2 separate regions of the Homo sapiens genome follow, and region 1 is linked to region 2. The links come from fine-mapping of genetic effects on gene expression. A gene starts in region 2. The other region holds a variant in brackets. All regions are shown on one strand. Distances are between the middles of the regions.

Evidence for each region. PIP is the estimated chance that this variant, and not a neighbour inherited with it, causes the effect.
Region 1: its variant is fine-mapped to the expression of CPNE4 in lung (TOPMed, PIP 0.91).

Annotation. Positions count from the first base shown.
Region 1 is chr3:132,282,821-132,288,198 of GRCh38, reverse strand. No RefSeq gene overlaps it. Among named protein-coding and RNA genes, the nearest start is that of ACP3, 32 kb to the left of the region's middle. The variant T/C (reference allele first, on the strand shown) is at 2,780.
Region 2 is chr3:132,032,371-132,037,748 of GRCh38, reverse strand. It overlaps CPNE4 (copine 4), which reads left to right and starts at 2,735. Exons shown (of 16, transcript NM_130808.3): 1 at 2,735-3,182. RefSeq lists a silencer at 2,511-2,610 and an enhancer at 2,986-3,155.

The DNA of each region.
Region 1 (5,378 bases), 250 kb before region 2:
TCAGTCTGATACTGCACAGCGGACATACAAACCCATTGGTCCTGTAACAGTGAGAACTACAGTGAAGACAATAAAATAAGGTGACATGACTGTGAGTGACTTGAGGTGGGGGATACTTTAGATGAGTGGTCAGAGAGGGTTTCTATGAGGTGACATTTGAGGTGAGACTTGAATGCAGGAAAGGGGAGAGCCATCAGAGCATCCCAGGAAGTGTAAAAACCCTGAGGCAGGGAGTGAGATTGTGGTCTCAGAGGAAAGAAAAAAGGCCAGAGTGACTGAAGAATTGTAAAAATGGGAAAGGGCAGGAGCAGACAAGGTCAGAGAGGTAGGAAGGTGTTGAATCACCCAGGATCTTGTTGAGGCCATGGTGAGGAGTTTGGATTTATTCAAAATGCAATGGGAAGCCAAATGGGGAGTTCTAATCAGGGGAGTGATATGCATTAAAAATTCTGTGGCTGCTTGTGAAGAATGAATTATGGAGAAGCAAAAAAGGGAATGAGAACAGCCAGGAGGCTACTGTAGTGGCCCAGGAAACAGATGATTGTAGCTTGGATCAGGGTGGATTTGGGGAAGTCAAAAGAAGTGAATGGACGAGAAAAATACATACTAGTATTGGATATGAGATGTGAGGGAGAAGGGTGAGAAAAGGAAAAAAGGAAAATAGCTCAGAGCAGTCTGAGCTATGTGAGATATGCAGAATTTATCAGGCTCAGAGAAACATGAGTATGGGACTTCAGTCACCTTCTCCGCTATGTCTGGGACAATTGTTTAAAGGTATTTTGTTCTTGACTAGCTGCTACATCCATTTTCTTCCTGTTTTTGTGATACAAAGAACAATATATAGCCAATCATTAGCTTATGTTATTTTAATGTAAATTCTTGGTAAACAACTTAGGAACTGCCTCTTCTTTTACTCCTTAAAACTTCAACTAGTAACTGCTACTAATCAGGGTGTATATTTATGGCAACTTGAATCTATGCCCCCATGTGGCCATCCTCAAGCTTTGGACTCCTATAAACTCTATACTTAATTTTTCTGGTCCTCATTATTTAAGGCTAACGGGAGAATCAAGGGGCACTCCTAGGCATTGGGCTTCAGAAATTGGGTGAATGGCAACAAAAGTGTCAGACACAGATGATGAAGCTTCAGAGAGACACAGGTTTATCTTATTCATTTAAGACATACTTTTATATCTCTTACTATCCTGGTTCTCAACCTTAGCCTCACACTGAAGTTACCTTAGAATTAAAAAAATAGGCTGCGTGCAGTAGCTCATGCCTGTAATGTTAGCACTTAGGAAGGCTGAGGTGTGAGGATAGCTTCAGCCCAGAAGTTCAAGATCAGCCTGGGCAACATGGTGGAAGCCCCATCTCTACAAAAAATAAACAAAGGTAGCTGGGTGTGGTGACTTTCCCCTATCTATAGTCCCAGCTACTCAGGAGGCTGAGGTGGGAGGATGGCTTGAACCCAAGATGGCTGCAGTGAGCCATGATTGTGCTGTTCTTGGATCTCACGCAAGAATTTGAGGCATATCCATAAAGTGAAAACAAGTTTATTGAGAAAGTAAAGAAGCAAAAGAATGGCTACTCCATAGGCACAGCAGCCCCAAGGGCTGCTGGTTGCCGATTTTTATGTTTATTGATTATATGCTAAACGAGGGGCGAATTATTCATGAGTTTTCCAGAAAAGGGGTGGGCAATTCCTAGAACTGACAATTCCTCCCCTTTTTAGACCATATAGGGTAACTTCTTGAAATTGCCATGGCATTTATAGACTGTCATGGCACTGCTGGGCATATCTTTTAGCATGATAATGCATTATAGTTAGTGCATATAATTAATGTACATGTCTTTGTGACCTGTACTTTGTGCCAACCTTTTATCTGATCCTGTGACTTAGAATGCCTAATCTCCTGGGAACGCAGCCCAGTAGGTCTCAGCCTTATTTTACCCAGCCCCTTTTCAAGATGGAGTTGCTCTGGTTCAAAGGCCTCTGACAATGCCACTGCACTCCAGCCTGGCTGATAGGGCAAGAGCCTGTCTCAAAACAAAATAACAACAATAAAACCCTGTGCCTAATTAGTTATTAGAGAATTTTTTGGAGATTTTAATTTAATTGCTATGGTATATGGGCTGGATATCAAGATTTTTAAAAGCCACAAGTGATTCTAATATGCCTTAAAATTTGAGAAGCACTGACTCATTACCTGGCTGGTTCTGTTTCAAATGCTTTACAGGTGTTAATTCGTTTAATTCTCATAACAATCATGAAAGTTGATCATAAGAATTGGGTCATTCTTGTCACTCACAACTAAAACAGAGTTGAGAAGCCAGGGGGAACAAGCACGCAGGGTACAACATTGCTGAAAGAATGTAATTCTCTGCAAGCCCAAACTGCTTGTTGTAACCTGAAACCAGTTTTATCTCATCTTCTGAGATAACGTGCTGCAAAGGCTAGCACTAATTGTGCCCACAGCCACCATTCACCAGTTGAAGCTTTCTGACTCCCTAAATTCTTTCTTATGCCAATGAACTTTCTCAAAGAAGAATACATAACATTTCTCCTTTTTTATAAAACTGATATCGGAATAGGGCAGGGAAGTGCTGGGCGGAGAAGGGCGGGTCCCTGGCGAGGGCTCCACCCCCAGGCCTGTGCCCACGGACCTAGGTGAGGACAGGCATTTGTTTTCAGGTCCAAATGTTACATTTCCCAAGACCACCCTGGCCCACCATGCCCCCATCCCCCCATCCTGTGCCTATAAAAACCCTGAGACCCTAG[T/C]GGGCAGACACACCAGCGGCTGGACATTGAGAGGATCACAGCAGTGGAAAAAGACACAAGCACCTAGCCGTTGAGAGGAACGCACTGGCCTAAGAACATACTGACAGACGCCGGTAGGCCAGCAGGGCGGCAGGCCATCAACCCGCGGAAGGACACGGACTTTGGCCAGGGCGGTATAAGGTAAGCCCCGCTGCTGGGCGGCCTGGCTCCAGGGGAAAGCAACCTTCCATTCCATCTCCCTTCTGGCTCCCCCATCTACTGAGAGCTACTTCCACTCAATAAACCTTGCACTCATTCTCCAAGCCTACGTGTGATCTGATTCTTCTGGTACACCAGGGCAAGAAACCCCATGATACAGAAAGCCCTCTGTCCCTGCGATAAGGCAGGGTGTCTGATTGAGCTGACTAGCACAAGCCGCCTACGGACGGCTAAACTGAAAGAGCACCCTGTAACACAGGCCCACTGGGGCTTCAGCTGTAAACATTAACCCCTAGACACTGCTATGGGGTCGGAGCCTCACAACCCGACCGTCTGTCTGTATGCTCCCCCTAGAGGTGTGAGCAGCGGGGCACTGAAGAAGCGCGCCACACCCCCGTCACACGCCCTGCGAGGGGAATAAGGGAACTTTTCTCGTTTCAAAACTGCTAAGCCGTTCTTTGCTATTCGGACATACCCGAAGACCACCAGGTCTGTATGTATGGCCCAAATTGCAATTCTTTCTTCCCAAATAAAATATTAAATTTATGGATTCATCTCTACATGTTTATTTTGACTTTGATATAATTATATGAGAAAGGTACTATTATTAACTCTCATTTTATAGTTGAGGAAATTAAGGCTCAGAAAGATTAAGTTGCTCGTCTAAGGTCACATGACAGAAACGGAGCAGGGATCCCTCTTAGGGCCCCCCTCCCCCCCTTGCCAAGCATGGAAATAGAGGAAAATATTGAGTTCCTTCCGGGGAAATTCTAGGCAGTGAACTAGCCGCCTCACTAGCCCTGAGAAGTAAATAAGCAACTTGATAAGCAAGAAGATAATAGTAGCTGAAAACAATAGCCAAGGTAGTTAGAGTCCTGAGATGTTTGGTTCCCTATAGAAACTAAAGACAACATCTCAACATATGTCCCTGAGCTACTTTTCAGAAACACAGACCCCAGCCAAATGGATCCACTGGCATGTAGACCTCAGATAAGGGGCGATTGAGAACTGAACTCTGACTGCCGTTCTTTTTTCTAAACTTCTTCCTTAGGAGCCTAAAGGACGTCATACCCATGGGCCAGACCTAACATTCCTTTCTGCTGATCCCAAGTTTTTAGACAAAGTTTCCCTTCCTTAACCAATTGCGAATCAGAAAATCCTCGAATCCACCAATGACCTGTAAGTTCCTGCTTCAATATATACTGTCTTTTTAGGCCAAATCAATATATAACCTCCACATATGCCTTAAAATTCTGCCTGTAACTTCTACTTCCCTGAAATTTATCCCTGCTTTTAAAAACTCTTGCTTGTAAGCTATTGCGAAGGTTGGCTCTTACAGTGTGAGCTGCCTGATTCTCCTTGCTTGGTGCCCTGCAGATAAATGCCTTCTTTTCCCCCCTGCTGCAAAACCTTGGTGTAGATGTTTGGCTTTACTGCACTGAGTGAGCAGACCCTGGTTTGGTTTGGTAACATGACTTAAAAATTACAAAGAAAAGGAACAGGAACACAGCTCTCTGGTCCTCTGGTATTTAGAGCTGAAACAGAGGAGGAGGGGCCTGAAAACATGAAGGCAGAACTTAGAAGGGAAACAGGAGAGTGTAGTGTTGCAGAAGCTTGGTGGAGAGAGTATTTCAATGAGGAAGTGGTCAGCTTTTTTGAAAGCCCTGAGTGTTTGCTGAAGAAAGACAGAGACAGAGAAGTGACCACTGGATTTGGCAAGATGAGGTCGTGTTGAGTCTGATGGGAACAGTGCCTGTGGAGTGGTGGAGATGGAAGTACAATCACAACTGATTGAAAAAGGAGTGGGAGCTGAAGATGTAAAAGTAGTAACCACCAAGAACTCTTTGGGAAAAATTAGCTAAGAAAGGGAGCTGAAAACTGGGAGGGGGATGGAGGAGATTTGAAGTTGTGTGTGTATTCAAGTATTAATTTTGTATGATGATAAATAAAGAGTACAGAGGTGGGCACATCAGCTCATGCCCATAATACTGGCGCTTTGGTAGGTCAAGCCAGGAGGATTGATTGAGCCCAAGATTTGGAGGCCAGCCTGGGCAACATAGCAAGACCCTGTTCCTAAATTTTTTTTTTTTTAAATTAGCCAAGCATGGTGGTGTATGCCTATAGTCTCAGCTACTCTGGAGACTGAGGCAGAAGAGGATCACTTGAGCCCAGGAGTTGGAGACCAGCCTGGGCAATATAGCAAGACCTTGCCTTTTAAAAAGTGGGGGAAAAAAAAAAAAAAGGAAGGCATTTTGTTCCTGACTACCTGCCTCACCCATTACTTTCATGTTCCTGGAATTTTTGATATGAAGAACAATGTATAGCCTATCAGTAGCTTATGTGATTTTAATATAAAATACTTGGTAAGCAACTTAGGAACTGCTTCTTCTTTTTCTTTAGA
Region 2 (5,378 bases):
GACACTGAGCGGATGCCTCCTCTTATCTTATCAAACAGAAACCCGGCGAGTGAATCTACCCAGAGCTGAAGCTTCCTTTGCAACTTGGGAACACCAGGGCCACAGTGACTTTGTGGCTTGGCTTTAGATAAATTTGACCATGGCTGTAGAACCCAGCAGCTCAGAATCCATTAAAAGGAGAGCTGGGAGGAGGTGAGTGATAGAGACAAGGGGATTTTGATGTTACAATTGTTGAGGGGACTGTGGCTGGCGGGCAACTTGCTGTGGGGGCAGTGATTGAAAACATGGATTATTAGCTGGTTACAAATCTTCATTTGTACAGATGAGCTGTTGATTTCATATAAGAGGTGGAAGTAAATTCTGCTTTATGTGCCCTGTAAAAAGCTTCTTTGAATTTACCTTCAGTGTCATGCCTTCAGAAAAAAATTCCAAGTTTCTGGCATAAAGCTGCACGTTTTCTGCGCACTGGCATGCAGGCAACTGTTTGTTTCTAATTACGGAGCTGAAGCCTGCTGGCAAAGGAAACCATATTTGTCACAAGTTGTGGCATTGTGTTTAGTTTGTGTATCTATGCTTTTAACATGTAGGGCCAAAGATAACTATGTTGTTTTTCTTTTTCCCTATGAGCATTGACTCTATAACTTCTTTTCTATGGTCCATGTGTTCACTTATTCTAGCTGCCCCTTTAGAGACTGCTTCAATGAACAACCCCTATCCTCCCATTAACTAGTTGTGTTCCCTGGTCTGGTCATTTCAACCGCCCACACCCTGGATTTATTTTTGTAGATATAGTAAAACTTTCTTGGGCAGGTTGTTGTAAAAATTAAATGGGATGGTAAGTAGAGTGCCTAACAGATTGCCTGGAAATAGTACATGCTCAGCACATCTTAATTCCTTTTCTCTCACCTGTAATATAAGAAGTTTATGTTGAATGGTCCCTAAGGTATTTATATTATTTTTAATTTTATAAATGTAGAAGGTGGTAGACACCTTTCTAGGCATTGGGGTTATAATTATGAACAAGACGACAAAACAGACATATCCCTTGCCTTCATAGAAATTAAATTTTAGAGGATACAATTAACATGCAAGGAAATGCACAATGACTTTTCCTTCTTCTTCCTTCATCTTTGCAAGTTCAATCCAATTCAAATTTTGAGTTTATCTCTGAGGCTACCTCTTAACAAAACCTGGAAGTAATGTTTTTGGACTTAACATTTTCATATTTAGTAGTCATACACTGGTTTTGCCTGCTTAGCATCCGTCTCCCCTTTCCTGGTAGGAGGACCCTGAATATCCCTTGGAGAATTGTCCCTGTGTCTCACTCGCAATGTGTGTAGATCAGGTGGGGCTCCATCCTGGCTCCAGGAGTGCTATAGAAGACATCACATGCTCCTAGACATTGTGGAAGTCCTGGCCCATTAGTGTAATTCCATATCCAAAGGTCACAACGATTGACTTATGCATAGCCATGTGACCCAAGTTTTTGCAATCAAAGCAAATCCAAGGATTTCTGTGGTAGTTTCAGTGTACAGAGAAGCTCCCTGAGGTCCTTTCCAGGGTCCATGTTTAGTGTTATCCTATTTCAGAAAGGCTTTAGAGGTGACTGAAAGAAGAAAAATGTTATTTGTGTTCTGTCAGAAGGTTGTCCCTTTGTTTATCAAAGATATTTCTGTCTACTTCTATAGAACAATTAAGAGGGGGTCTTCCTCCTTACCCTATTGGTTCTCCTTTTCTGGACTTTGAAATTGAGAACTTCATGGTTAGTGAAAAGATTTTGGCTAATATCTCCTCCAACCTTCAGGTTGGAGAGGCTTTGTTAGATAGCCCCTTAATAGGGTGAGAAGGAAGACCTTCCATCTCCCCTCCACGTTAGATGTAACACACTCTATACCATCCCAATGTCAGAAAGAGACCGTCATTCACTTTACTTCATTAATTCCAAAGTCCAATTTGTGAGTCTGACAATACCAATGTGCAGAGAGAATTTAGTTGTCTAGTTTGTCTATGGTAGCAGACATAATCAGAAACAATGCCCTGTATTTGAATAAGTTCATTTGTCTGAATTTGAATAAGTTTGAAATAGGAAGGCCATACTTTCTCTCTAAAGTGCTTTAAAACATGTGGAAGTGGTCACCCCTTACATAAGACAGCATATTTATATCTATCTTTAAGCATAAGTACTCCCTAAGTATTTCTTTATCTTATTTGTGAGGTAGATGTATTCAGAAACTCATCATGAGATGAAGAAAATACTCTTTGTCCATTAATTTACTCATGCATTACTTACTAAAAATAATTTCCAGGCTCCTGCCATACGCCAGACAGTTTTGTAGACACGAAGGATCCAGAGATTAGCAACACCTTTACCATTTTTGGTGACAGTTAAGCACCCATCTAAGAAGTTTTCTTTGGTGAGTGCCAAAAAGTGTAACTCCCATTCCCCCCACACCCGCGCCGCGATACGACCGCTCCACCCTAGAGTGGAGATGGAGACCAAGCACTTGGAGATCTAAATCAAGTGTCCCCAGGAGCTCAGTTGAGCGACAAAGCTGAGCAGAAAGCCCAGACTGCGGGCGCGGCAGGACCACGGAGAGCGCCGCCGCCAAGGCCTGGGCGGGGCCTGAGCTCGGGTTCCCGGGGCAATGCTCGTCTCCGTCAGCAACCCCCAGGGGGCGCTCGCGCGGAGGTTTCGGAACCAGTCTCTTGCCGGGTTGCTGGGTGCATGGGATTCGTCAGAAGGTGGAAATCTCTCTGTGAGAAGCTGCCATCTCCCCGCCACCCGCTCGTCCCCTTCTCTTTCTGCCACCCTCCTTTCCTTCCTCCCTCGCTCCACTCCACTCCCTCCCTCTTTTCTCAGTACCCTCCTCTTTACTCTCCGAGTTAACTGAGAGCCGACCTGACATCTCCAACATTTTCACCCTCTTCCCCCACCCCCATCACCGAGAATGGAGTCAGGGTTTCCGGAGAGACCGAACTCTGCTCTCAGCACCTTTCCCAGCCGCTGTTGCTAAACTGACCTCGGAGGACGAGAGGGGAAGGAGGTGCGACGCCCCTTACATCAGTACAAAACTACCACACCAACCACCTCCACTTCAAAGCCGGATTTTGCATCCTGGGGGCGGGACAGACCTCGTCCCGGGCTGAATTCTCTCTCCACTCTTCGAGATTGGCACACCCAGGTAAGTAAATGCCAACTCTTCATTCCTGTGTTCCTGGGGCGCTGTGATTGCAAAGTCTGTTGGAGCTGCTGCGTAGCAAGACCAACTTTTGAGATGCACTGGTTCTCGCTCACCTTTGCACGTTTGTCATTGCTGTTGTTGTTTTAAAAAGCAGCAGCAAGCAACGTCTTTAATCTGAAGGGACTTCCATCCCCTACCTCTCGCCTTCTGACATCCACCCAACTCGCCCAGGTGGGGTGGGGCGAATGGAGTTGGGGAGAAAGACCGCGGAGGGGAGGGGACAGCATGGCACGGGTGAGGGATAGGTCAGGGAAGTCCCGAAGGCGGAAGAAGGGGTACGGTTTTCAAAATCGGGGAAGGGGAGGGGAAGGGAGTTCTGGCTGAAGTTGCAGCTTCCTCTCTGACAGTGAGAAAGCTGTGGGACATTGTAGTCCCTTCCAATGGCTTGACCTGGCTGCGGTTGGATTCAGCCTCTCAACCTCCTCCCCCACACTTCTTACAATGAGGTTCTAATAATATTTTAGTTGCCTCTTCTCAGTGTTAAAAACTAATGAATAGGCTTGCAAGTGCTTTGATTCAACGTAGTCCTTCAGCGCTTCTTCCTCTATGGAATAAAGTAGCCAGAAGGAAAGGGGGACGGGGACAGGGGACGGGACTGGAGGGACCACTGAAACCAAGCCACAGCTGAGTAAGGAGATCACGACCCCGCGTGGTATCACAGACACACGAGAACTGTTAGGGCTGAATCCAATGGAGATAATTAGGAGGTGGTCCACGCCAAGTCAAGCGAGTGCTGATTACCATCCGGTGAGGAGCAGGCTAAACCCTGATGAAAAATGCTCCTCCTTCATCTTGGAGTAGGTGGGCTTTAAGGCCCTATTTCCCATTCTATGTTCCAAATCTGACGGCGCCCCAGGGCGCCTTGGCGGATTGCCTTTCAGCCCCAGAACCTGCTAGGCTCCAGGGAAAGTCACAGGCGGCAGAGATGATCCAAGGGGCGCAAATCTATGAAGGGCTTGATGTGGGTGGTTGGGAAGTGGAGGGGGGAAAGGTGAGCAGAGTGAGGCGGGAGGGGGCTAGGGAAGCGAGAGTGCTCTGGGAAGCTTTGCAAGAGAGACATCTGAGAACCTCTCCCTCTACACACACACACACACACACACAGACACACACACACACTCACACACTCTCACAGGATTTCAGTGACTTGTGGGAAAAGATGCCTCAGCACCTTTACACCCTGTGTTCAAAACTATGCAAAACCAACTCTTCATCCTCTTGCTGCTTTGCCAGGGATTTTAAAAGCACTGTTCTGGTTTTTCTTGGCTCACTTGGTTTTGTTTCCTGAACAGCACTTTTGAGCTGTCCAAGATACTTTAATATGTTATCTTTAAATGAAACTAAATCCTGCTCATTCGCGCGCCCCCGCGCGCACACATACACAGGCGTACACAATTACCTTAACTTCAAATAAAGTGTTCTTTTCTCCATACTCTTCTATTCCCTTAACAATCCCTGTTCTCAAAGGCCTTTGTGTTTTATTTTCTGCTTTATAACAAAACAAAAAAACAAACACCCACCGTCCTATGACACAGGTGTTTTGAATCCATGTCAATTTTTGTAGTTAGTATATGCTGGTTAAACCACATAGCATATCCCCCAAAAAGCCAGAGGCAAGCAAAAACTTAATTTGATGCCCTTCAAGTTTCGGAAGGTCCCATTTCTTTTTATTAACCAAAAGATAAGATGAAGCTCAGCATGGCTATGGCTGTGATTAGATAACTTCTGATATTTTCATTTCCCTTACCGAGCTGCTGCTTCTAGGCTGAACTCATTCACCTGCCCATTTTTAAAGAGAGACTGACAAAGTCACTCTGGCAGGTCAGGACTCAGAGTTAGTCAAAAGTTCTCACATGTAGAGAGGTGCATAAAATAGAGGGAGGGTTGGAAAATGCAGTCAGAACACCTGTGTTAATAGTGCATACTAATAAAGGCCAACATTTTCTCAACTATCTCTCATGGGAAGATTCTTATGGTTTTAGAGGATCAAACTCAAAACACATCAGAATGAGGTGACTTTTCCATTAACATTACATAAAAGGATATATTGGTCTATAGCAATAGTAGATGTTTAATCCTGGGCAGTTTTGTATGATTGTGTGAGAAGAGATTGCCTATAATTGAACCAAACCTCTACTT